7 linked regions of the Homo sapiens genome follow. The protein of the gene in region 1 interacts with the protein of each later gene in a pairwise test. Each region holds a gene or a part of one and is shown on either strand. Other genes may lie near its edges. The genes, in order: ZNF444, PRKCA, YWHAG, LMNA, WFS1, HTT and GFAP.

What was found.
Region 2: the proteins of ZNF444 (region 1) and PRKCA interact in binary tests that used the Homo sapiens proteins (3 or more experiments, as listed by UniProt).
Region 3: the proteins of ZNF444 (region 1) and YWHAG interact in binary tests that used the Homo sapiens proteins (3 or more experiments, as listed by UniProt).
Region 4: the proteins of ZNF444 (region 1) and LMNA interact in binary tests that used the Homo sapiens proteins (3 or more experiments, as listed by UniProt).
Region 5: the proteins of ZNF444 (region 1) and WFS1 interact in binary tests that used the Homo sapiens proteins (3 or more experiments, as listed by UniProt).
Region 6: the proteins of ZNF444 (region 1) and HTT interact in binary tests that used the Homo sapiens proteins (3 or more experiments, as listed by UniProt).
Region 7: the proteins of ZNF444 (region 1) and GFAP interact in binary tests that used the Homo sapiens proteins (3 or more experiments, as listed by UniProt).

What each region holds. Positions count from the first base shown.
Region 1 is NC_000019.10:56,144,287-56,147,786, forward strand, and holds part of ZNF444 (zinc finger protein 444), read left to right. Parts: exon of another isoform or gene 1-1,563; intron 1,564-1,960; 5' UTR 1,961-2,134; intron 2,135-2,603; 5' UTR 2,604-2,625; coding exon 2,626-2,922; intron 2,923-3,500. UniProt on the Homo sapiens protein: Transcriptional regulator. Binds to the 5'-flanking critical region of the SCARF1 promoter.
Region 2 is NC_000017.11:66,736,113-66,739,612, forward strand, and holds part of PRKCA (protein kinase C alpha type), read left to right. Parts: intron 1-2,651; coding exon 2,652-2,743; intron 2,744-3,500. UniProt on the Homo sapiens protein: Calcium-activated, phospholipid- and diacylglycerol (DAG)-dependent serine/threonine-protein kinase that is involved in positive and negative regulation of cell proliferation, apoptosis, differentiation, migration and adhesion, tumorigenesis, cardiac hypertrophy, angiogenesis, platelet function and inflammation, by directly phosphorylating targets such as RAF1, BCL2, CSPG4, TNNT2/CTNT, or activating signaling cascade involving MAPK1/3 (ERK1/2) and RAP1GAP.
Region 3 is NC_000007.14:76,331,492-76,334,991, forward strand, and holds part of YWHAG (14-3-3 protein gamma), read right to left. Parts: intron 1-3,500. UniProt on the Homo sapiens protein: Adapter protein implicated in the regulation of a large spectrum of both general and specialized signaling pathways. Binds to a large number of partners, usually by recognition of a phosphoserine or phosphothreonine motif.
Region 4 is NC_000001.11:156,124,711-156,128,210, reverse strand, and holds part of LMNA (lamin), read right to left. Parts: intron 2,042-3,500; exon of another isoform or gene 2,008-2,041; coding exon of another isoform or gene 1,988-2,007; intron 1,657-1,987; exon of another isoform or gene 1,560-1,656; intron 1,476-1,559; exon of another isoform or gene 1,409-1,475; coding exon of another isoform or gene 1,296-1,408; exon of another isoform or gene 1,262-1,295; intron 1-1,261.
Region 5 is NC_000004.12:6,293,850-6,297,349, forward strand, and holds part of WFS1 (wolframin), read left to right. Parts: intron 1-1,191; coding exon 1,192-1,340; intron 1,341-3,500. UniProt on the Homo sapiens protein: Participates in the regulation of cellular Ca(2+) homeostasis, at least partly, by modulating the filling state of the endoplasmic reticulum Ca(2+) store.
Region 6 is NC_000004.12:3,207,181-3,210,680, reverse strand, and holds part of HTT (huntingtin), read right to left. Parts: intron 3,401-3,500; coding exon 3,324-3,400; intron 1,909-3,323; coding exon 1,770-1,908; intron 855-1,769; coding exon 732-854; intron 1-731.
Region 7 is NC_000017.11:44,902,659-44,905,500, forward strand, and holds the end of GFAP (glial fibrillary acidic protein), read right to left. Parts: 3' UTR 2,414-2,842; coding exon of another isoform or gene 1,172-2,413; 3' UTR 501-1,171; downstream 1-500. Other genes in the region: DNAAF19 (dynein axonemal assembly factor 19), read left to right, coding at 1-159; Ig-like V-type domain-containing protein FAM187A precursor, read left to right, coding at 1,172-2,413.

The sequences.
Region 1 (3,500 bases):
CGACAGAGAGAGACCCTGTCTTAAAAAAAAGAAAAAAGAAAAAAAGGGATCCATTGTGGCTGGAGTATAGAGAATCTGGGAGCAGGCAGAGATGAGAAAGTAGGGCTGGGCTGCATGGTCTCATGGCCATAGTAAGCAATTTGGGTTTTGAGCATCACAGGAAGCAGTTGGAGGGCACTGAGCAAGGAAGTGACAGGGATTTACAGTGAAAAAGTTTTTGTGATCACTGTGGAGTGATTTGGCTCTAGGTGGCGAGAGTAGGCATACACGGGTCTTGTGGCAGCCGTCCCAGCAATGAGATGACGTTTGTGGTTAGTGACATGGCGGTCAGGAGCCCAGGCTTTGGTTGTATCAGGAGGAAAATTGTCTGAACACAGACTTCCTCTCAGACCTCACCGGCTAGAAGCAGATTATGTGCCCACCCTCTGCCTTGTGGTCAAGGGGACTTTGCTATATAGTTCCTTATGATACAGTCCAAGCTGCTGTAATGAAGAGACCCCAAGTACAGGGCTCCACATAGGACAGAACTGATTCTTTTCTCCCATAATACTCCAGAGGTGTTCTGGGGCGGGCTGGCGCCTGAGCCCCATGGGGTCATCAGGGTCCCTTCTGTCTTGATCTTCCAGTGTCCTTGAGGTCAGGGGCCGGCAGTCTTGTCCTGTAAAGAGCCAGCGAGTGACTATCTTTGGCTCTGTGGACAGCCTTACAGGCCACCCAGGCCCTGTCACAGCCACTCGGTAGCTCCAAGGCGGCCGTGGACAGCGCGTGAGCAAGTGGGCGTGGATGTGCGCCAGTGAGACTTAAGTAAAACAGGCTGCAGGCCAGATTCGGCCCACCAGCTCAGAGACCACCATTTCTCAAATGCTTTGAAGTCAGGACTCCTTTCTGCCTTCAAAATTACTGAAGACCCTAACATGCTTTTATTGATGGGAGTCATATCTATTGTTACGTATCATAGTAGAAACCAAAACAGAAAATTGTAAAGTATTTATTAATGCATTTAAAAATGGCAATCACGGCTGGGCGTGGTGGCTCATGCCGGTAATCCCAGCACTTTCGGAGGCCAAGGCAGGTGGATCACCTGAGGTCAGGAGTTTGAGACCAGTCTGGCCAACCTGGCGAAACCCCGTCTCTACTAAAAATACAAAAATTATCCGGACGTGGTAACGCACGTCTATAATCCCAGCTACTTGGGAGGATGAGGCAGGAGAATCGCTTGACCCTGGGAGGCGGAGGTTGCAGTGAACCAAGATCGCACCATTGCACTCCATCCTGGGCAACAGAGCGAGACTCCATCTCAAAACAAAAATTAAAAAAAAAAATAGAGACAGGAGAGCTCGCTGCCTCTCTCTATTCTACGCCATGGGAGGACACAAAAGGAGGCCGTCGGCAGCCTGGAAGAGGTGCTCACCAGAACCCGACAGTGCTGGCACCCAGATCGCAAATTCCCAGCGGAAGGGACTGGGACAGGCCGTCATAGCTGTCATAGCGGAGCACCGTGGACTGAACTGCTATGAGCTTATTTCTCAGTTCTGGGAGCGGGAAGCTCAGAATGCCATCATGGTCAGTTCCTGGTGAGGGCCTCTGCCAGGCTGCAGGTGGCCTCCTTGCTGTGTGCTCCTGCTGGCAGAGATGGACAGAGTCCCGGTGTCCCTTTCTCTTATAAGGCCACAGCCCTATTAGGCCCAGCCCTTGTGACCTCAGTTAACTTTCATTACCAGTTAAAAGCTTCGTCTCCAAATACGGTCACACTGGGGTGAGAGCTTCCACATGTGAATTTTGGGAGACAAATTCAGGCCACAGCAGTTAGTTGGGGTGGCTTCTGAGTAGGCTGCAAAGTGTCTGCTCCCAGGGTGTGGGGTGCACGGCCCCACAAGTCCAGTGAGGGTGGTGCTGATGGTGACCTGCTGCTGCCAGGCCTGCTGCAAGCTCTTTCTGTGTTTTCTGGTTGAATCCTCAGGACAGGCTGCGGGAGGAGCTGCAGGACTGAGGTACAGAGGCCAGGGGCCCAGGGCAGGACCCAGCCTGGACTTGACTCCCTGGGATCCCAGGAAGGGCACACCCTTTCCTCACCACCCGAGTGAGCGCTGCCCCCTCACAGAGACCTCTTTGCCCCCTGGGCCAGGCAGAGCAGGTGAGTGCTTTATCTTACAGGGGAAACCGAGGCACAGAGGCCGGGCCTATCCTGGGTATGTGGGCGGCTCAGAAGCGCGGGTCCCAGGCCGGGTGCAGTGGCTCACGCCTGTAATTCCCAGCACTTTGGGAGGCCGAGGTGGGCGGATCACCTGGGGTCAGGAGTTTGAGATCAGCCTGGCCAACATGGTGAAACCCCATCTCTACTAAAAATATAAAAATTAGCAGGCGTGGTGGCGGATGCCTGTAATTCCCGCTACTCAGGAAGCCAAGGCAGGAGAATCGCCTGAACCCGGGAGCTGAGGTTGCAGTAAGCTGAGATCCGCCACTGCACTCCAACCTGGGGGAAAGAGCGAAACTCCGTCTCAAAAAATAAAAAGTAAAAAAAAAGAGCGTTGGTCCCATTGTGAGTCTGGGCACCGCGGGCAGGGTCTCGGCGGGCAGGGGTCTCACCGGCTTGTTCCCTGCAGGCGCTGCGGTCCGGGAGGCCCCATGGAGGTGGCGGTGCCCGTGAAGCAGGAGGCCGAGGGCCTGGCGCTGGACTCCCCGTGGCACCGCTTCCGCCGCTTCCACCTGGGCGACGCGCCGGGCCCGCGGGAGGCGCTGGGGCTGCTCCGCGCCCTGTGCCGGGACTGGCTGCGGCCCGAGGTGCACACCAAGGAGCAGATGTTGGAGCTGCTGGTGCTGGAACAGTTCCTGAGCGCGCTGCCCGCCGACACGCAGGCCTGGGTGTGCAGCCGGCAGCCGCAGAGCGGGGAGGAGGCGGTGGCCCTGCTGGAGGAGCTCTGGGTGAGCCTGGCGGGACTGCAAGCGGGGAAGGGAGAGGGGAAGGTGCCAGGGAAGCCACCAGGAAGCCCAGGGAGGAGCACCACTGAACCCCTGAAAACCAGTGTGACTCGCGGTGGGGAGGCTGCGGTACAGGCTGCGGTACAGCGTGGAGGGACAGTCCACGTGCGGCACCCTCCATCCCCACACCAGCTGCAAGTCAGGAGGGCCCCAAGACCCTGGCATACTTGCGAGTTCTCTAGGACTCACAGCCGTGTTCACGGTCACGGCTTATCAGAGAAGGACGTGCTGGAAGCAGCTGGGAAGAAGGCCACGAAGGCTCCAGGGAGCGCAGTTACCAGCTGTCCTCTCCCCGCACCCCGCCCGCACGCAGGGGGTCTTGCCGGCCAGGAATTCTCCTCAGACCGTGGTGTCCTGGGTTCTTACTGGGGACTCCTCCCCGTTCTGTGTGGCTGACCTCAGCCTCCCGCCCCCTGAAAGTCAAGGATACCCCCTGGTCCAAACTCTACCCCAAATTCATCTTGCTTTTGGGCTGGCCTGAGTCCCCCGGGGCAGGCAGACCCTCCTTATCATGCGTGAGG
Region 2 (3,500 bases), on another chromosome or scaffold:
CTCAAACGATCCCCCTACGTTGGCCTCCTAAAGTGCTGGGACTACAGGTGTGAGCCACTGTGCCTGGCCTTAATTCAGCAAACATTTCCATGAAAGGTTTTCTTCATGCCTGGTACTGTGCTCAGACTTTGGGATACAAAAACAAACAAACAAAAAAACTCACAGTCTTGGCTTTTTTTTTTTGAGACGGAGTCACTCTCTCTTCCCCAGGCTGGAGTGCAATGGTGCGATCTCTGCTCAATGCAACCTCCACCTCCCAGGCTCAAGGGATTCTCCTGCCTCAGCCTCTCGAGTAGCTGGGATTACAGGCCGCTGCCACCACGCCCGGCTAATTTTTGTATTTTTAGTAGAGATGGGGTTTCACCATGTTGGCCAGGCCGGTCTTGAACTTCTGACCTCAGGTGATCCACCCGCCTCGGCCTCCCAAAGTGCTGGGATTACAGGCATGAGCCACCGCACCTGGCCACAGTCTTGGCTTTTTAAGACCACTGGTTCCACTGCCAAACATGGCATTGGAGCATAAGGAGACTTGATTTTGTAAAAGAGCATGTTCTTGTTCAATGCCACACAACAGGGACTGGCAAACTGTGGCCTATTCTCTATGGCTTGTGAGTTTAGGAAAGGTCACAACAAGGAAATCCAAAGAGTCATATATCGTGACACGTGAAAATTAGGTCAAATTTTAAATTTCAGCATCCATAAACAGCTGTTTTGGGACATCACCACACTCCTTCGTGTACCTGTCATCTACAGCTGCTTTTGCACCATGAAGGCAGAGTTGAGTTGCTGCAAGAGACACTCACAGCCTAAAATATTAATACATACTGTCTGGCCCTTTGTGGAAAAAGTTTGCTGAGCTCTGTCGTAAAGTAAAACTAAACAGAGGACAAAAAAGGACATTCCAAAGCACTAATCAGTCCGTTGCAGGGCTTGCAAGTGGCCTACAAGAAACAGACATGGCCGGGCGCGGTGGCTCACGCCTGTAATCCCAGCACTGTGGGAGGCCAAGGCGGGCAGATCACGAGATCAGGAGATCGAGACCATCCTGGCTAACACGGTGAAACCCCGTCTCTACTAAATATACAAAAAAAAAAAAAAAAATTAGCCGGGCGTGGTGGCGGGCGCCTGTAGTCCCAGCTACTCGGGAGGCTGAGGCAGGAGAATGGCGTGAACCCGGGAGGTGGAGCTTGCAGTGAGCCGAGATGGCGCCACTGCACTCCAGCCTGGGCAACAGAGCAAGACTCTGTCTTAAAAAGAAAAAAAAGAAACATAGATGTTTAGATGCCACCATAGTGAGACGTTGCCAAAGCTGGTCTTTCCACTCCTCAGAGGCTGCCCATTTAAAATATGACTCCATAATCAGTAGCTGTAATTGATGCGATTATTACTATTTTCAACTGCCCATTGATCAGAGATTGACTTTCTGTCTTATGCCTCTTTGAAAACTCTTGGGAGGAACCTCTCAGTGCTTTTGTGTTTTAGAATCTCAAAATGGCTTTGCAGCCACCCGGAGCCTCTGGGTGTGTAGCAGTGGCCGCGGAGTCAGGCGCCGGCCACTACGTGTCAGCCTAGCGCTGGCGGCACGTTGAGCTTCCTGCTCCCAGCCGTTCCCACTGACTCTGAATCAAGTCACGCCAGGGAGAGATGAGAGCAGCATGCTCGGAAGAGACAACCACAGCTCTGAATCCCAGCCCAGAGCCTGTAACCCTGGTTACCCTGATTAAGCTCTGGAAAGCTACAAAACAAAGAAATGAAGATGAAATTAAAGTTCATAACAGGAAAGCTAGAGACTGGGGCTCCCAGGGTTGCTTCCTGGCTATTAGCACCAGCTTCATCATTTTTTTCTCCCTGTGCAGCACTTTAATGTTTAATATCCTCTGTGAAATGGGGATGTTTTCTAGCAGAGAGCAGAGGTCATTATTTCACTGTTAAACCCCTCCATCTTCCTATCTGTCCCAGCATAATGTCCTCAGGAATATGCAGATTTATTTGGGTCTATGATACATGCCCATCATGGGGCCAACACTTAGCCTACCAGTGACAGAGAAAATAGAAAAACAGTGTTTGGGCATATTACAGATGCAAAAGAACATTTGATTAGCATCTCCATCTAGAGTCCCCTGTCCCATGTCCAGTAAATATATTGAGCATGTGTAATCCTAAGCCTGAGAGATGTGTTTTCAGGAGTATCCATTTAAACACGATACTACATTAGTATGGCACGCCTCCCAGACACTGCAAACCAGCCTTTAAACATTTGGACCATGGAGAAGCACTAGTTAAAATGAAATAATTGCCTTATGTGGATTCCTCACACCATCCCTTACTTAGAAATTTATTATATGTATAGGAAGATAGGGAAGAATGTTCAAGGCCGTTACTATAATAGCATATGTAACAGGAAGGCACGTTGATGGAGAGCCATTATTTCAGGGTTATGTAATGACTTTATACTTCCCAAGGCCCTCATGCAGTAGGGTTTATTACTTATTCTTTCTTTGGAAAAAAATGTGAAAGAGCTCTAAACTGAGCACATCTGCCCATGCAGTCCCCATTTAACTAATGAGAAAGCAAAACACAACCTGTGAAGAGCAAAGGAAGCCACTTGGCTGGGGAGGAGCCCTGCTCATGTGTTGAACCTTGGTCTGCAGGATCGGCTGTACTTCGTCATGGAATATGTCAACGGTGGGGACCTCATGTACCACATTCAGCAAGTAGGAAAATTTAAGGAACCACAAGCAGTGTGAGTATTATTTTTTAAGTCCTTTAATTTGAACAACCAAGTCCTACCAACTGGAAACTTCCTTTTTTCCCCCCCGCTTGAGATTGGGGGTCTCACTCTGTCACTCAGGCTTTGCCTCCCAGGCTCGGGTGATTCTCCCACCTCAGCCTCCTGAGTAGCTGGGACTACAGGCACACACCACCATGCCTGGCTAATTTTCTGTTTTTGGTAGAGATGGGGTTTCACCATCTTGCCCAGGCTGGTCCCGAACTCCTGAGCTCAAGCTGTCTGCCCACCTCGGCCTCCCAAAGTGCGGGGATTACAGGCGTGAGTGAGCCACCATGCCCAGCCCCAACTGGGAACTTCTGCTGGGTGAAATGGGAAAGTGGGATTCTGCCCAGTTTTAGGTTGAATGTTATAAACCTAAACATGGGAGGCGGAGGGCAGATATACTGGTAGGATCCATCTAAGATGGTTCCTAAGGAGCAGTTTATTCTATTTCCAGTATTTCCAATAAACTGGAGATGTTGCCATATCCCATCATCACCCAGGTCCACCCTTGTTGATGGAGTTATTCTTATCTGTTGAACAAATGGTTATCACACACCTGCTCTGCACCAGGCACTGGGGTTGCGAAAGGAACGAGGTGCTCCCTTTCCAGAGGGAGTTTACACTCCACCCTGGAGGTGGAGAAGTCACCTAACAATTAATAGTGCGTTGCTGTAACTTTAGAGACTTGCGCAGGATACCAGGATAACACGTAAGCCCCTAAAAATCG
Region 3 (3,500 bases), on another chromosome or scaffold:
AATGCAGCCCAACACAAATTCGTAAACTCTATTAAAACACTGAGAATTCTTTTTGCGATTTTTTTTTTTTTTTTAGCTCATCAACTATTGTTAGTGTTAGTGTATTTTATGTGTGGCCCAAGGGAATGTGGCCCAGGGAAGCCAAAAGACTGGACACCCCTGTACTAAACTCCTGGGGCATGGGGGAACTGAACTACCAGGAGACTTTTTTTTCTATGTTTGAATCATTATGTTCAGTATGTTGGCCCATGCCTGTAATCCCAGTGCTTTGAGACACCAGGTGGGGAGGACTGCTTGAGGCCAGGAGTTCAAGACCAGCCTGGCCAACATAACAAGGCCCCATCTCAAAAAAAAAAAAATTTTTTTTCTTAAATTATAAACGGGGGGTATGCTTGGCAAAAGTGATTACAGTCATTACTTCAAGCAGCATCTACTCAGAGATAATTAAATCAAAACATAAACCAAATCATGCTTATTAGTTTATGGCAGGCAATTCATTTTCTGAATGAATGATCAGCAAGTGCTACACGCTCAAATATTCTCTAAACTGATTAGTGGTGTTGTTAAAGTTAACATTTTCCTAGACATTACTGATGCTCTGTTTTAATGCTGGACAACGTTACTCCTACCAGCCGTGCCCTCAGTGAAACAGACTCAAAAGAGGGGAAGAATAGGGGGTGGGTACTACTTGAGTTCAGAGCAGAAGGAAACCAGGAAAGAGATGCTTTGCTCCACCACCTCTTGTTCCCGGCACTTCTGCAAACACTCCTCCTGCATGAATAAACACAGGCACCTCGTGTCTCATTCTGCACTGACGATCTGTCATCCAGCAGACCGCTGTCACTCATGCTGAATTCTGATGTGTCCACAAATAACGGAAGATTGGGCTTTTCCCAGCTCCATCATTCGCTAAGCAATCTTGGGGACAAGCCGCTTCATTTCTCTGGGCTTTGGTTTTCTTATCTGCAAAATGGGGATTTCTGCTTCTTTCATAAGGTAATATACAGGTATATCAGACAAATAAGAAAGTCTTTTTTTGTTCTTTTTGAGACATGGTCTTACTCTGTTTCCCAAGCTGAAGTGCAGAGGCATGATCACACCTCACTGCAGCCTCAAACTACTGGGCTCAAGCAATCCTCCCACCTCAATCTCCAGAGTACCTGGGACTACAGGTGTGCACCACCATGCATGGCTGATTTCTTTTTTTTTTTTTTTTGGAGACAGAGTTTCAAAAAGACCTGGTCTCACTCTGTTGCCCAGGCTGGAGTGCAATGGCATGATGTCGGCTCACTGCAACCTCCCCCCAAGTTCAAGCGATTCTCCTGCCTCAGCCTCCCGAGTAGCTGGGATTACAGGCGTGTGCCACCATGCCTGGCTAGTTTTTGTATTTTTAGTAGAGACAGCGTTTTGCCATGTTGGCCAGGATGGTCTCAAACTCCTGGCCTCAAGTGATCCACCCGCCTCAGTCTATGGCTGATTTATTTATTTCTTTATTTAGAGATGGGGTCTCACTATATCAATCCGCTGGAAGTGCAGTGGCACTATCTTGGCTCACTGCAACCTCAGCCTCCCAGGGCTTCAAGCAATCCTACCTTAGCCTCCTGAGTGGCTGGGACTAAGGCACATGCCACCACACCCAGCTAATTTTTGTATTTTTCTGTAGAGACAAGGTCTTGCCATGTTGCCCAGGCTGGCCTTGAACTCCTGGCCTCAAGTGATCCACCCACCTTAGCCTCCCAAAGTGTTAGGATTACAGGTGTGAGCCACTGCATCCAGCCATTTAAAAATTTTTAGTAGAGACAAGGTCTCACTATGTTGCCCAGGCTGGTCTTGAACCCTTAGTTCAAGTGATCCTCCCACCTTGGCCGCTCAGAGTGCTGGGATTACAGGTGACAGCCATTGTGCCCAGCAAAGTCTTCTTGAAAAAGTAAAATGCTACAGAAACATGAGGAACTACTTTTAAGAATACCCTGAATAATTTTCCTTCATTTTAGTTCTCACCACAGGGGATGTCTACATTTCCTAACGATCTCCCAGCTCATCTTCCTGTATCGAGTGTCTCTTCTCCGTTTCATCCTCTTCTCTATATTAAGCGGAAACTGCCTTAGCTGCCTCACATCGCTTCCTTTCCATAAACCCTAGTTCCATACAGCCTGAAAAAAAACTGCCCAGACTTGGCTTTGGAAGGAGCTGAGCCCTTGGGCGCTGCTGCCACCCATCTCTGGCATACTTTACTGAGTGTGCGAATGCTGAAGACAAACCGCCCCGCGGTGCAGCCCTCATGACTGCCTCCAGTGCAAGGAGAGGCCAGCGTGCCGAAGGCCACAAAGATCAAGTTCTGGCCTTTCCCCTAAATCATGTTGTCCTTATTTCAAGGGCCAGGAGCTATTTAAAGCTCAAATTATCTCACCAGTCCTGGGGGCACTCCTCCTGCCACAAATGAAGTCTCCCAGCAGTGCCCAGAGAGGCAATCTGTACTTATGTAAAGTCTGCCTAGCTGTCCCCAGACACATTGGAACAAGGAGATTATGAAATGCCAGGATCACCTTTGGATACAGTAGCTCGACCACATTTGGAACACGCCCAGATGTTCCCTGCCAGTGAAAAACTAAGTTAGAGGGGAAACCCTTCAGCTCTAAAAAGTCTAAAGAAAAGTTGTTCTGAACACCTTAAATCAAAATTTTTAAAAATCCTTTATCCTTTAGATCATAATTACTTGCATAAGAATCTGTTATTTTTAAATTAAAATAAGAGATCCCCACCATATTAGTTTTAAAGGTCAACAGATAACCTCTTAAAAGAACAAGTTATTCTAATAGTGTCTAAAATGATTTAATCAAGACAGAATGACAGAATGACTATTCAATGTGGGAAGATACGGGATCTTGTATCATTTGGGAAGGGAGGTAACATTTTTCAAAACAGTCATTAAATTTGTTGTTGTTGTTTAAACAGAGACAGGGTCTCACTCTGTTGCCCTGGCTGGAGTACAGTGGTGCAATCACAGCTCACTGCAGCCACGCCACAAACTCCTCTGCCTCAGCCTCCAGAGAAGCTGGGACTACAGGCATCTACCACCACGCCCCCTAATTTTTGTATTTTTTGTAGGGACCAGGGTCACCCTATGTTGTCCAGGCTGGTTTCGAACTCCTGAGCACAAGTGATCCTCCAGCCTTGGCCTCCTAAAGTTCTGGGATTACAAACATGAGCCATTCTGCCTAACCTTCTTCTTCTTTAAAAAAAAAAAGAAAGAAAGAAAGAAAAGAAAAGAAATGGGGTCTCACTCTGTTGCCCAGGCTGGAGAGAAATGGCGTGATCACAGCTCACTGCAGCCTCAACTTCTCAGGCTCAGGTGATCCTCCCACCTCAGCCTCCCATCACACCCTGGTTAATAAATTGTTTCTACGAATGCAACACTTGTAAACATGGTCCCCAAAATTTACTGTCATGGCTGTTGGAAAATGTAGAAAGTTTCAGTTTTTATTCCCCAGAGTTGTATG
Region 4 (3,500 bases), on another chromosome or scaffold:
ATATAGAGCTTATTAGGTACCAAGCACTGCTCTAAATATTATGTTAACTCACGTCATCTTCACAGCTACCCTATGCGATAGGTGCTATTCCTATGCAATTGAGGAAATAGGCACAGAAAGCTATATCTAGGGTCCCGCAGCAAGTAGATAGGGGAGCTGGAAATCCATGCTGTACCACTTTGGCACAAGCCACAGTATATGGTCTCCAAGGAAAGTAAGGGGGCTGGCTGAGTGTGGTGGCTCACACCTGTAATCCCAGCACTTTGGGAGGCCAAGGCAGGTGGATCACTTGAGGCCAGGAGTTCGAGACCAGCCTGCCAACATGGTGAAACTCTGACTCTATCAAAAATACAAAAATTAGTCGGGCAAGGTGGTGCACGTCCATAGTCCCAGCAACTTGGGAGGCTGAGACACGAGAATTGCTTGAGCCTGGGAGGCGGAGATTGTAGTGAGTTGAGATTGTACCACTGTACTCCAGCCTGGGTGACAGAGTGAGACTCTATCTCAAAAAAAAAAAAAAAAAATTTAGCTGGGTACGGTGGTGTGCACCTGTAGTCCCAGCTACTGAGGAGGCTGAGGTAGGAGGATCACTTGAACTTGGGAGGCGGAGGTTGCAGTGAGCCGAGATTGTGCCACTGCACTACAGCATGGGTGACAGAGCGAGACTCCATCTCAAAAAAAAAAAAAAAAAAAAAAAAAAACAGTAAGGGGGTTATTTGTCTTTCCCTGGTGGAGGTTTTGACTAGCACTGCAAAGAGAGGAGATTAAAGGACTAAGACACACCCTGCAGATGAGAAAAACCACGAGCAGAGAGGGAAGTGAGGAAGAACCTTTGTGGTTTTCTTAGGCACGGGGAGCTCCCATCTGCGGGGAAGAAGCCACTATCACCCATGGGCTCATGACTCAGACCTTGGGAGCTCTGTGGCCAGGGAGCCACACGCACACCCCAAGAGATGACTAGGGGTACAGTAGAGCCCAGTGTCTCTCCTCCCTCCTCCCTGCCCCCGCCCCCAAGTGCCATTTCCTTCCTAGGAGGGGTCCTCAGACCTAGCAGGGACCAAAGTAGACCCTAGCCAGGCATTCGGTCCCAGGGTGGTGGTGCAGCCCACTCCACTGGGGGTTGGCATCAGGAAAGCTGAGCACACGCTGAGTGCCGTCCCCGTGCTGGGTTGGCAGGGAGGACAGGGTGGGGCAGGCCAGAGGAGCTGGGAAGGGTGGGAACCTGGGCCCCTCAGGTGACTCATGCTCAGGCACACAATACCCGGGCAGGGGTCGGGAAATCCTCTAGTGCTCACAGGGGAGACCCTGGCTTCGCCCGTGTCCTGCCCCAGGCCGGGTGCTGTGCCAGCAGAGTGCCAGTCCTTTCCCTTGCATCCTCCAGGTTCCCCAAGCACAGGAGTGGCTGCATCCCAGTGGCCTCTTGAGGCGAGAAGGGCTGGGCATCCTGTTTCTAACTCTTCCCATCACTGGCAAATCTGATCTCAGAAAGAGGGAAGAGAGGGGGTGGGGAGGGGAACAGAGAGGAAAAGAATAAGGTAGAAATGAGAGTTGGCACTTGCAAATGTGACCCAAGGCAGGGGTCTGAAGAGCTGTGCCTGGTGGGACAAGGAAGTCCGGCTCCCCAGCTGCAGCAGGCCCGGGCCCTTGGGGCTGTTTGGGGAAGAAAGGCACCAGCACAGCAAAGGGGCTAGGTGGGCACCGGGCCAGGCGCTGACCCACCCTCTGAGTCACCCTGCTCAGCCCAACTCTGATGCCAGATATGGAAGCCAGGGCCGGCCACAGGCCTGTTTGGGCCCGGTTGCTGGGGGCAACAGGCTAGGCCCGGAGGGAGAGGCCTCCGTTTCCTCTCCCAATCTGGGGGAGAAGCAAGAGGGACAGACACTGTAGCTAAAAATAACAAGTGGGAGGGGAAGACAAAGGGGAGGTGGAGGAGCTGGCCCAGCCCTGCAGGGACTCCTTAGACCCACTCCTCAGCAGCCCTGCTCACCAGCCCTCAGAGTTCCCCATTGCCAGGCAGCACACAGGAAGGGAGCAGAAGAGCAGAGGGTCTCCCAGCCCCTGGGCATTTCCTGTCTCCCAGGAACATCGCCCCCTGTGGCCGGGTGGGTACAGGGAGTCCGCCTGGTGGCAAATGCTCTCCTGTATCCTCCTGGGCATCTAATTTGTTTAATTTTAATTTAAAATTTTTAATTGTTTAATTTTAAAATTTTTCATTTATTATTATTACTATTATTATTATTTTGAGGTGGAGTCTCATTCTGTCGCCCAGGTGATCTCACTGCAACCTTCACCTCCCAGGTTCAAGTGATTCTCCTGCTTCTCAGCCTCCCGAGTAGCTGGATTACAGGCCTGCACCACCATGCCTAGCTAATTTTTCTATTTTTAGTAGAGACGGAGTTTTGCCATGTTGGCCAGGCTGGTCTCGGACTCCTGACCTCAGGTGATCCACCCGCCTCCACCTCCCAAAATGCTGGGATTACAGTCATGAGCCACCGCGCCCAGCCCCTATTATTATTATTTTTGAGACAGAGTCTCACTGTGTTGCCCAGGCTAGAGTAGAGTGGCGCGATCTCGGCTCCCTGCAACCTCCACCTCCCAGGTTCAAGCAATTCTTGTGCCTCAGCCTCCAGAGTAGCTGGGATTACAGGCGCCTGCCACCACACCCAGCTAATTTTTGGCATTTTTAGTAGAGATAGGGTTTCGCCATGTTGGCCAGGCTGGTCTTGAACTCCTGACCTCACGTGATCCTCCTGCATCAGCCTCCCAAAGTCCTGGGATTACAGGCGTGAGCCACCACACCCAGCCCCTCCTGGACACCTAGACCTCTGCCCAGGCTGACTTCCCGCCATGTGACAGGGCGTCTTCTGCTGCCACCCCAAGCCACTCCTACCACCCCTCCTTTTGTTCCAGCAACTCCTCCTACTGCAATATATCCTCCTTCTCTCTGTCCCTCCCTCCCATTCACCCAAAACCTCCCTACCCCTCAGCCTACTTGAGCCTGTCTCAGCTCTGCCCTGCTGATTTCAGCCAGTGTTCTACCTGTTGGGTCGTGGGGCTTTTTCTGTGTGTCCCACAAATACCCGGAGACTAGACGGTTCACAGGCTCAAGGCTTCTAGAGGAACCTTCTCTTGAACCAACTCCTATACTTTTACAGGGGGAAACTAAAGCCTGGAGACGGGTAGGCTCAGGCACTAAAAACCTGCCCCCAGGTCACCTGAGGACACTCACAGCAGATTGGTGCAAAACATAGAAAATGGCACGATACACACAGACACTGCAGAGAATAACACAGAGAGACCCAGTAAGACAGTCTGGGAAGCGTGTCTGCCTCTGTCTCGCTTGCTGGGAGATACCCCAGTCAGAGAGTGATACGGAGGCCTAGTGAAAGTGCCACTCCCACCCACCCTCAAATATACACATACTCACACCTTTGTGTGCGGCCAATCATGAGGTTTGATAGCCCCTACCTCCCCCCCAACCCGGCAAAGTAACCACTGCT
Region 5 (3,500 bases), on another chromosome or scaffold:
GCAAGCCCCCAGCCCGCCCAGGCTGCATCCAGCCCGTGCTCCTTCCACATCTCCTGTACCTGGCTGTCCCATGGTCACCTCACAGCTCAGTCTACAGTGAGCTACTGAGGCCTGTGCTACCTGCCACTTGTGTGGGCCCCCCCAAGGCTGCCTCATCTCTTTGCTGCAGCTACACCTGGGTGCTGCCCCGACTCCTCTCCTCTTGCACACACAGCTGATCCATTAGGAGGTCTGTCAGCGCCCACTATCACGGCTGCCATCTTGGATGCAGCCTGCCTCCTCCCTAGGGTTTCTGCAGCACCCTGGCTTGTCTCCCTCTGCCCTGCCCCAGCATGGTCCTTTCTTTCCCATCCTTCCCCTGGAGGCCCTCCTGGTCACCATCTCACCACGGCAACTGGGGTCCTTCAGGGGCCTCATTCCCTCCTAGGGGATCATGTTGGATAGAGGGGTCAGTGGGCACGTAGCTCTCGCGGATCACGTTGGATGGAGGGATCAGTGGGCACGTAGCAGGCTCTTGGTGGAAGATGTTGGATGGAGGGGTAAGTCGGCCCATGGCAGGACGCATGTTGAATGGACGGGTTAGCAGGCATGTAGTAGGCCCATGGCAGACACTTGTTGGATGGAGGTGTCAGCAGGCACATAGTAGGTGTGTGGCAGATCATGTTGGATGGAGCGGTTTAGCAGGTGCACAGTAGGCCCTGGGTGGATCACGTTGAATGGAGGGGTTGGGGGCGCAGATCATGTTCGATGGAGCGGTTGGCAGGGTACTGCCCTACAGGGCGGCTTGTCACCCGTGCTGTGAGAAGCCCCACGCTGGCTGAAGAGGAGGGTGTCAGCATGCACTGGAGGTGCATGTTGTAAGGCTTGGCAGGTGAACTGGGTGAAAGGTGTGGGTGAGTGGCCCCAGGCATAAGGAGCTAGGCAGAGAGGGACACTTGGGGTGGGGGACAGCACACCCAGGGGCCGGGGGCCAGGAGTGGAGGCTGGCACTTGGCAAACCTGCCCCCTTCCTCCTCACCCAGCCTGGTCCTCAACCCTCAGGCCGCCCAGGGAAGGGTTTCCTCCACCTGAACCCACTCAGCTCCTTTCTTAGCTTGGCCCCACGCCACCGTCCCCAGCCCATTGCTCTGTGTGAGGGTGGCAGTGGGGCTGCAGTGTGGGGCGCCCATGCTGTTTTCTCTCATGCTTCAGCCAAGAACTACATCGCGCTGGATGACTTTGTGGAGATCACTAAGAAGTACGCCAAGGGCGTCATCCCCAGCAGCCTGTTCCTGCAGGACGACGAAGATGATGACGAGCTGGCGGGGAAGAGCCCTGAGGACCTGCCACTGCGTCTGAAGGTGAGTGACCAAGACCCCGGTCAGGCCGGAGCCTGCCTCCCAAGGACTCGCGCACCTCAGGCAGGGCACCTTCCAGGAAGCTGCAGGTGGGGAGGTTCGCGCCTAACAAAGAGTGTCTTACAGCCGTGCCGCTGGTACCTTTGGGTCATCATCTATCGTCATAAGGATGTGTCCTCGGGAGAGAGGCCTTTCTTTTCTGCGCCGTCAGGCTCAGAAACCAGGGGCGGTGTTGGGCAGGAGTGCTAGGATGGCAAGCAAGGGGCCCCTGGGTCTTTCTGTGCAGTGTAGGGGGCAGTGGGGCGGGCTGGACGCAGACTTTCATCTAGACTTCATCACTTAGCAGATTTCTCCATGTATGGTCCAGAGTGGAGGCCAGTGCCTTGAAGATGCCTTCCCCGAAAACAAAGTGCCGTGTCCGTCAGGCCAGGGAGGACGTGCAGAGGCGCCTACTGCCCCTGGATCTGCAAGGGCTCAGGGAGCGAGGCCAGTGTGGGAGCGTGGTGGGTGACACTTGTGCAGGGTGCCATTGGGCACACCTGGAGGACATGAGCAGCTTTGGCGGCAGGAGGAAAGCGGGGAGCGGGGAGCGGGAAGCCCAGCAGTGCGGGCCCTACTCCTGGCCTGACAGCTTGTTTTCTTGGCCATGTGGCCCTATGGCCTCTCACAGAGTTGCTCACAGTTCAGCTCGCATGGTTGAATTAGATGTGTGCCTGTCTCACTCTGCAGAGAACACCAGGATTTCCAGAAGCTTGGCCTCCTGACCCAGGATCCCCAAGCTGAGGCCAGCACAGGGGGCCCCAGCAGATGATTGTCACAGAGGCTGCGGGCAGTATCATGCAGGCACCCTGGGGTTCTGTCTTCTGAACTGACTGAGAACCTGGAGGAACTGCCATCATTGTATTCAGATGGGCGCGTGAGTCAGGGCCAGGACCAGGAGATGGTTGGGCCACCAACTGTCAGGCAGGCAGCAGGCTGAAAGGTCACCGTCCTCGAGCCAGGGAGAAGGTCAGAGTAGGCCCGCCCTCCGGTGGGGGGGAAGAGCAGGAACCCAGGTGCTGCAGGAGCAGCTTCAGCCCAAAGAGCAGCAGGCACAGCAGCCCTGCTGCAGGGACTCGGAGCCAGACAGGTCTGAGTGTGAGCCCCCCGAGTGCCCAGAGCTGCGAGTCCTTTAGGGTGGCAGGTGGAAGGCTCTGCTCCTCCCACTTGGGACAGGCTGTATGTCCAGGGTATGACACCGACCGGTCTGCAGAGGTTCTGAGACATGGGCCAGGATGGCCAAGAACTTGAACCAAGGGAGCACATGGTTTTTACTGATGGTCTGCTCAGAGCTGGCCCTAGGCAAGCATATTCACAGATTGGGTGCCATCATCTCCTTACTAATGGGAGATGAGGAAGCTGGGGTGCTGGCATGGTTTTGGCAAAGACACTCCCGAAATGAGAGTGAGGGTCACAGGTGAACGGGTTAACTTGGAGAAGACCCTTGGGCCAGGCGGCCATGGCCCAGGTGTCCCAGTTTATGCCATCTGGTGTAAGTACTATTATAATAATGCCTCCTTGCATATGCGTCCTGTTCGGAAAATTATGTCACCTAGTTATGGATGGTGAGTCTAGTGTTGTGTAGCATCTGAAAATCCTATTTATTTATGTTACTTAATGACAGGGTCTCGTTCTGTTGCACAGGCTGGAGTGCAGTGGCACGGTCACAGCTCACTGCAGCCTCAACGTGCCAAACTCAAGTGATCCTCCCACCTCAGCCTCCCAAATAGCTGGACTACAGGCATGTGCCACCACACCCAGCTGATTTTTTTGAAAACATTTTGTAGCGATGGGGGTCTCACTATTGTTATCTACGCTGGTCTCAAACTCCTGGGTCAAGCGAGCCTCCCACTTTGGCCTCCCACACTGCTGGGATTCAGGCGTGAGACACTGTATCCAGCCTGAAAGTCCTTTTTAGAAGGGAGAGATTTAAGCTGTTTTGACAAGAAGTAAACAAGACTCTGTTTCCCTTTAGTTTTGGATGCTGTCAGAGCACTTCGATTCCTTTGCAGTTTGTCTTCTTAGAAGTCTCTTGTGAGGGAGGCAATGAATCGTCACAAGCGTCTCCCAGGGCTGAGAGCTGTCCCACCTTTTAGTAGCCTTTTGTAGAACAAGGAGAGGTCT
Region 6 (3,500 bases), on another chromosome or scaffold:
CCGTCCTAGTAGGTCTGAGAAGAAGCCCTGCTTGGGCCATGGCTGCACCATACCCAAGAGGTGGCCCCCCCACTGCTCACAGGACCTGCCCACGGGTGAGGGACAGGGACACCAAGGCTTTGCATGGCCTCCTAGCTCTGCGCAGGGTGCCCTCTGACATCTGGGGTTGGGGGGTGAAGAACCTCACTACATCTAACAGAGGTGTGAGTAGAGGAAATCTCGCTGCATCCAAGGGTCTCTTTTACGACTAAAGATCAACTTCCAAGACACTAGAAACAAGTTATTGACGTCACGCATTACGACACTGTGTTGAAGTCTACGGCAAATACGCAACCTTGACTTCCATTCTGTCTTGGCCATGGAGCTTAGATGATAACATCCTGTGTTTGTTCCTCCAGTGGAGGCCAGATAGTTCTCATCCCAAACCATACACCCAGCCTTGGGGCCAGCTGGATTTCAAAACAACACCTCCGTGGATTCTAATGTGGCTGAAACAATGTGCTTTTCTGTCTCGATCAGCATAACCCCCATGTCCCGACCCCATCTGAAATGGAGTCCTCCCCACTTCCCGGCCCCATTCAGAGTGGAGTCTCTCCGACATCCCGTCCCTGCCCAGACTGGAGTCCCCAACATGTGTTGTCAACAAGTGGGTCACATGATGATGAGACAAATCCCACTTGGAAGTCACAAGAAAAGCTGAGGATTCCTTGCCTCCACTGCTCCCCCCGTACCGAGTTCATCATGAAGGCATTCATATCTTCAGCAGGAATCCGATTCACCAGCTCTGCACCTTCCAGCAGTGCAGAATCTGACCTGGTCCAACACTGGGATTTGACAAGATGAACGTACCAGTCCTGGGAAGAAAAAAATGGATAAGGGGAACATGATGGGCGGCGTTCAAGGGGACTTCACATCCCTGGAGCTACAGGCCTAGGCCAGTGCTTGGGAACACCGCACTAGGCTGAGAGGGCTGCCGGCCGGCAGGCTGTGGCTATACGGCTCACCACACCACAGGTTTTCCCCTTTGGACTTCTGTTACCTGCCTGGGCACCCTCACAGCCTCCCCCTTCACCTGGTGAACTTCCAATAGGCCTTCCAAATATAGCTAAACCACTAAGGGTTAGCGGCCCCTTTGCCATCCTCTCCTGGGTTGTCTGCTTTACTCATCTCTCCCCAGCAACCAGGGCAGGGCAGGTGCTTAGCGAATAGAGCCTAAGAAGGCAGGACTGAACCTTCGCTTTCTTATACTTGGGCTGCTGGTTTTTGAAATCTAAATTCATATTCATAAGCTGAACTTTGTCCAGGAAAGTAGAGTACCAAGGCTCTACCAAGGCTCTACCAAGGCTCCAGGTGGTCCCTAACCATGAGGTATGAGCAGTGGAGGTGCTGACAACATACCAGAATGGCTGGCAGTGGCAGTGCAACTCACAGGTGGCCAGAAGGTATGAGGAGATGGAGGGAGGCTAACGGCATTGACATGTGCTTGAAGGCCTGTGCAGTCAGGGGCCTGCAGGCCACGGCCGACTATTCCTTGATTCACCCACTAACTACTCACCCCACACTCCTACCAAAAGGGTCCCACATCAGCACTGCTTGGCTCCCTCAGACCTTGATGGCCCCCCACGTCTCTAACCACAGCTTCACTGAGCCGAGCCGAGCGCCAGAACTCCTTGGGTCCACGGCACCTCCTCTGCACTCTCTGTATCTGCCACAGGTGACAGAGGCACTCAGCGCCCTGTGCCTCCCATGCAGACACGCTGGACACTTACTTTGTCCGGACTCACTGTTTCCAGTGACACGTGCCCATCCCCGTCCAGCGGGTGGGAAGAGACTGGAGGAGAGGGACTAAGTGAGTCTTGCATGGTGGAGAGACGAAACCTGTCCAGCAGGGAATAGAGCCTTTGGTGTCTAAAATACAAATAAAAATGAAATTACAGTATAATTTGTTTTTTTTTTTTTTTAGTCTTAGTCTAAACTCTGCACACTAGGATTCTAGAAATATACACTCTAAGGAGATGCACTATTAGTGGCTTCTTAAAGGAAAATACACTTGTTTAAACCTTTTTCTTCACAGCTATCTTCTCATCAATACTCAAACAGGTCATGATACAAATGCAGGCCCTAGTTTACTTTTAAGTATCACAGTTTGTACTCCATTAATATTTTCCAGAAATTTCATTTATACTCAAACACTGCAACAGGCAATACACAGTATAAAAGCTAATAAAGGCTTTCTTAATAAATGTAAAACAGATCATCTAAGACTCAAATGCACAAATTCCACTATCAAATATCCCAGTAAGACAACTGATAGGAATTCATGGTCATTTCAAAATAAAATCACCTCATCTGGCACAAGATATTTATAATCTTTTAATCTCCCTCATCTGGACTGAAGACTAAGTCTAGGGTCAAAAAGTAATAATAGTTTATCTCCCGCCATCTGCTATGAGAGTGACAACTTCATAATGCAAATTACAAAAGAGCTTGGCCCTACAGACTGAAAAATCATCCCAAACTGTCCACCTAATTGTGCCCAATCCCATTTAAAAACACCATCAACAAGGTACTCTAAAGACTGAAAAGCATAATAGACAAGGTACTCTAAAGACTGAAAAGCATAATAATTTTTGTGTGTTTTTCCTTTTTTGCAGTTTCAGCTCAAAGTACACAGCATGATAATTATATTCTCCTTCTCTGCTGTCTCTCTCTCCCTCTCACACACACAATCCCTGCCCCCCACCCCGCCCCGCAAGGGAAGGAAAAAGGTAAAAGTTTAACTTATTCTGCAGTCATGGAAATACACTCACATAGGAGATGTAGGGATTTCTGACAAAGGCTTCTCAAAGACTTTGCAAACACAACTAAATGATTAAATGCTTTGAAGACATAAAATGGCAACAGGATGCAGATGTAAGTCCTGCATGCCAAGGATTGAGTAATGTCTCTCAGATTTGCCAACTCTTGTTTAGCAATTAGATGACATGCTTTGATTTTGCTAAGATAAACCTGATAACCTATTTTCCCACTCATCACAGGACAGTGAATACAGGCATTCTAAATGCTACCTCTCAAACAGCCACCAGGAGTGCAAACTGCCTCCACTCACGTCACAGACGTGATCCTGCCGGTCATCCTTTACTCTTTAGAAAGTGAGATCTGGTTGTTTTAAAAGTAGGAAGGTTCTATTATGGCACTTCTGCAGTAAACCCACCTATAAGGCACATCGATTTCTTGTCCTGTGAATTTATTCCCGTACAAATCTATATCCTTTATATCCTGGGTTGTCCTAACACAAGGACGACCTGTGTTTCCAGCATTACCTCTGAGCGAGCCCGCTGCTCTGAAGGTATTCCTGGATTCTGTTGAGTTCTTCCATTGGCAACTGGGCCATGCTGCTCTAATAGACAAAAACACATTAGTGTGTTTGTAACACCTAACAACCCAAAATAACCTCATGCTCATTTAAAAAGGATGAACTGATGTGTACAGTTCATCCT
Region 7 (2,842 bases), on another chromosome or scaffold:
TGCAAGGGCTTGTTTCAGAAGCTGCAAGCCATGGGCAACCCCAGATCCGTGAAGGAGGGGCTCAGCTGGGAGGAGCAGGGTCTGGAGGAGCAGTCTGGTGGGCTCCAGGAGGAGGAGAGGCTCCTGCAGGAGCTGCTGGAGCTGTACCAGGTTGACTGATGCGGCAAGCTACCCTCAGAGGTCCCAGTGGTCACTGGAGGCAGTTTTTTGGTTGTTGTCTTGGGGGTTCTGCAGGACCATAATAAGAAACCCACACCTGGTTCCCTTCTCAACTTGGAATTTTCAGAGCAAAAACAGGAATCAAGTCTTCCCCACTTCTCCAGTCCCTCAGTGTCTCGCTGTTTTGAACTGTGTGTATCCATGGACAGTCAAGAGCTCAGGAAGTTGAGAGCGGTTTTGTTTCCCACCCTTAGAGTCTGCCAAGCCTCTAGCCCACTGGCCTTGAGAGATGAGTGTGTGCCCAACCAAATGCTGGCTATACCAGTTACAGCCTCCACTCATAAAAGGGAAAAAGCAAAATCTTTATGGTAAACAAACACTGATCTCCACAGCTCTTAACAAGAATGTTTATAGCCCCAAACCAATGAATGGACATGTAATCAACAAATGATCAAATACTACATCATTTGAGGTGTTGAATTTTCCCCTAGAGACTCAGTTCTTGTGCAGGTTGGGCCTGGGAAAGTCCCAAGCCATCAGCTCAGGTCCAGCCAGCCTCCCGGATGGCCAGATATGCAGGAGGGTGGGTTTCCTTCATCCCCCAGGTTGATGAAAGACTTTTCCACCAGGCTGGCAGGGCAGGGCCTGGAGCACTGAGGCAGAGATCTCCCTGCCCGAGCACCTCGGCCCGCCCTTCTCATTCCGGTTTCCTTTGACCCATTCTTGGGTGAGCGCCAGTGTTCTAGAAAGGGGAGTAAAGGCCAGGTTCTAGAATGGCTTTCCCCCCCCACCCTGAGATCAGGTCTGGAATGTTAGAAGGGCATCTTGTACATCCACTGGGAATAAATTGCCTTGCACTTGGCGGCTTCCTCTGCAGATTGTTGCTGCTTTTCCTGGCTGCATAATCCTTTCCTCATCTAGAGGCTTCCGCTTAGCAGAGCTTTCTAGGAGCCCTATGAGCCTTTAATGCCCTGGTTTTGCCCTGCCCCTCTGACCCCTGCCTCCTTCAGGTATGCACCTGGCCCTCACCACTGTGCTCCTGTGGGCATGGGGGCTCCAGGCCTTTGAAATTGTGGAGAAGGAAAACATTTTTCAGAGGACCCCCTGCCCTGCTTTCCTGATGTTTGAAAATGCAGCCTACCTGGCCGACATGAGCTTTGAGCTTCCCTGTCACTGCAAACCCGAAGAGGTGCCAGCTGTAGTCTGGTTCTACCAAAAGCACCTAGGTAGCAGCCACACCAAAGTGCTGACGGACTTTGATGGGCGGGTGCTGACGGAGGCAGCCCAGGTACGTGTGGGCAGCGACATGCTGACCCGCTTCAGCATCCGCATGTTCAGCTTGTTGGTTTTCAGGGCTCAGTCTGAGGACTCAGGCCTGTACTTCTGCGGCACCCGCAAGGGGGACTACTTTTACGCCTACGATGTGGACATCCAGAACAGTGAGGGAATGGTGGCCACTTTCCAGGACAAGGGCCAGGAGCCCTTTGCAGATGAATACTATGGGCACCTCCATGTCTTCACCACCTTCTGGGAATGGACCCCCTGTGACCGCTGCGGAGTGCGTGGGGAGCAGTGGCGCATCGGCCTCTGCTACCTGCAGAGCCCAGACCTCTCCCCACGCTACCTCAAGGCCGTGCCCGATGTGGTGTCTTGTGGCTCAAGGGCTGTGCCAAGGAAGCTGCGGACCAAGGCCAGGGACCACACGCCTGAGGTGCTGGTTCGGAGCTGCTTAGTACCCTGTGAGAAGACAAAGACCATCCGGGAGGGCGTGCTGGCCATCATTAACTATGTGTCCAAAGTGGGCAGCCGGCCCTGGGTGCCCCAGGTGCCCATTCAGTTCCACCAGCAGAGACTGGGCCATGGACTCATCATCTCCTGTCCTGGGGCCCGGCCAGAGCATGCAGTGGCCTGGGACAAAGACCGCCAGCACCTCTACCGCACACAGTACCTGAAGGGTGTCAACAGGTCCATGAGGGTGTTCATTGACCACGGCAACCAGCTCCACATCCGCTTCACCCAGCTGGATGACCGGGGCATCTACTATTGCTGGAGGCAGGGTGTGCTAGTTGCTGGCTTCCGGCTGGGTGTGACATCTCATGGGCACTACCCAGCCTCGTTCTCAGATCCTGAGACTCGCTCGGCTGTGGAGCTCACCCTGATAGGCTACCTGCTCATCACAGCAGTCTTTGTCACCATTCACTTCTGTCGTTGCTGCTGCTACTTATTTCACTGTTGTCCCAGCTTCTCCCCCTAGGAGCTCTCTTCAGCTCTGAAGACCAGTTGTCCTTCAATGTGTTTGTTAAATGATACCAGATGTCTCTGGGTGGGTACCCTGGGTTGGGACAGGTGGTAGGAACATGTGGACAAATCTGTTACAGCCTGCTCCCCATTTTCATGGGCAGGTCTGGGACCTGATCTGAGAAGTGGAGGGGCCTGAGGCTGGTGGGAGATTGGGGACTGAGCTCAGGATGGAAGTAGGGCACATGTGTTTCCTGACTTCACATTTAGGTCAGAGAAGGAAAGTGTGAACTCAGATTTATCCAGTGGTAAACACTGATCAGTGTTGAATCATGTTTGAGCTGCTTTGCTTTCTTGCCTATGAAGATTGTGCTGGTTGAGTTGCAGGTAGCAGGGAGAGGAAGGAAGAAAAGAGTGGAGGGAGCTGGTGTATGTCCTCTTTGGC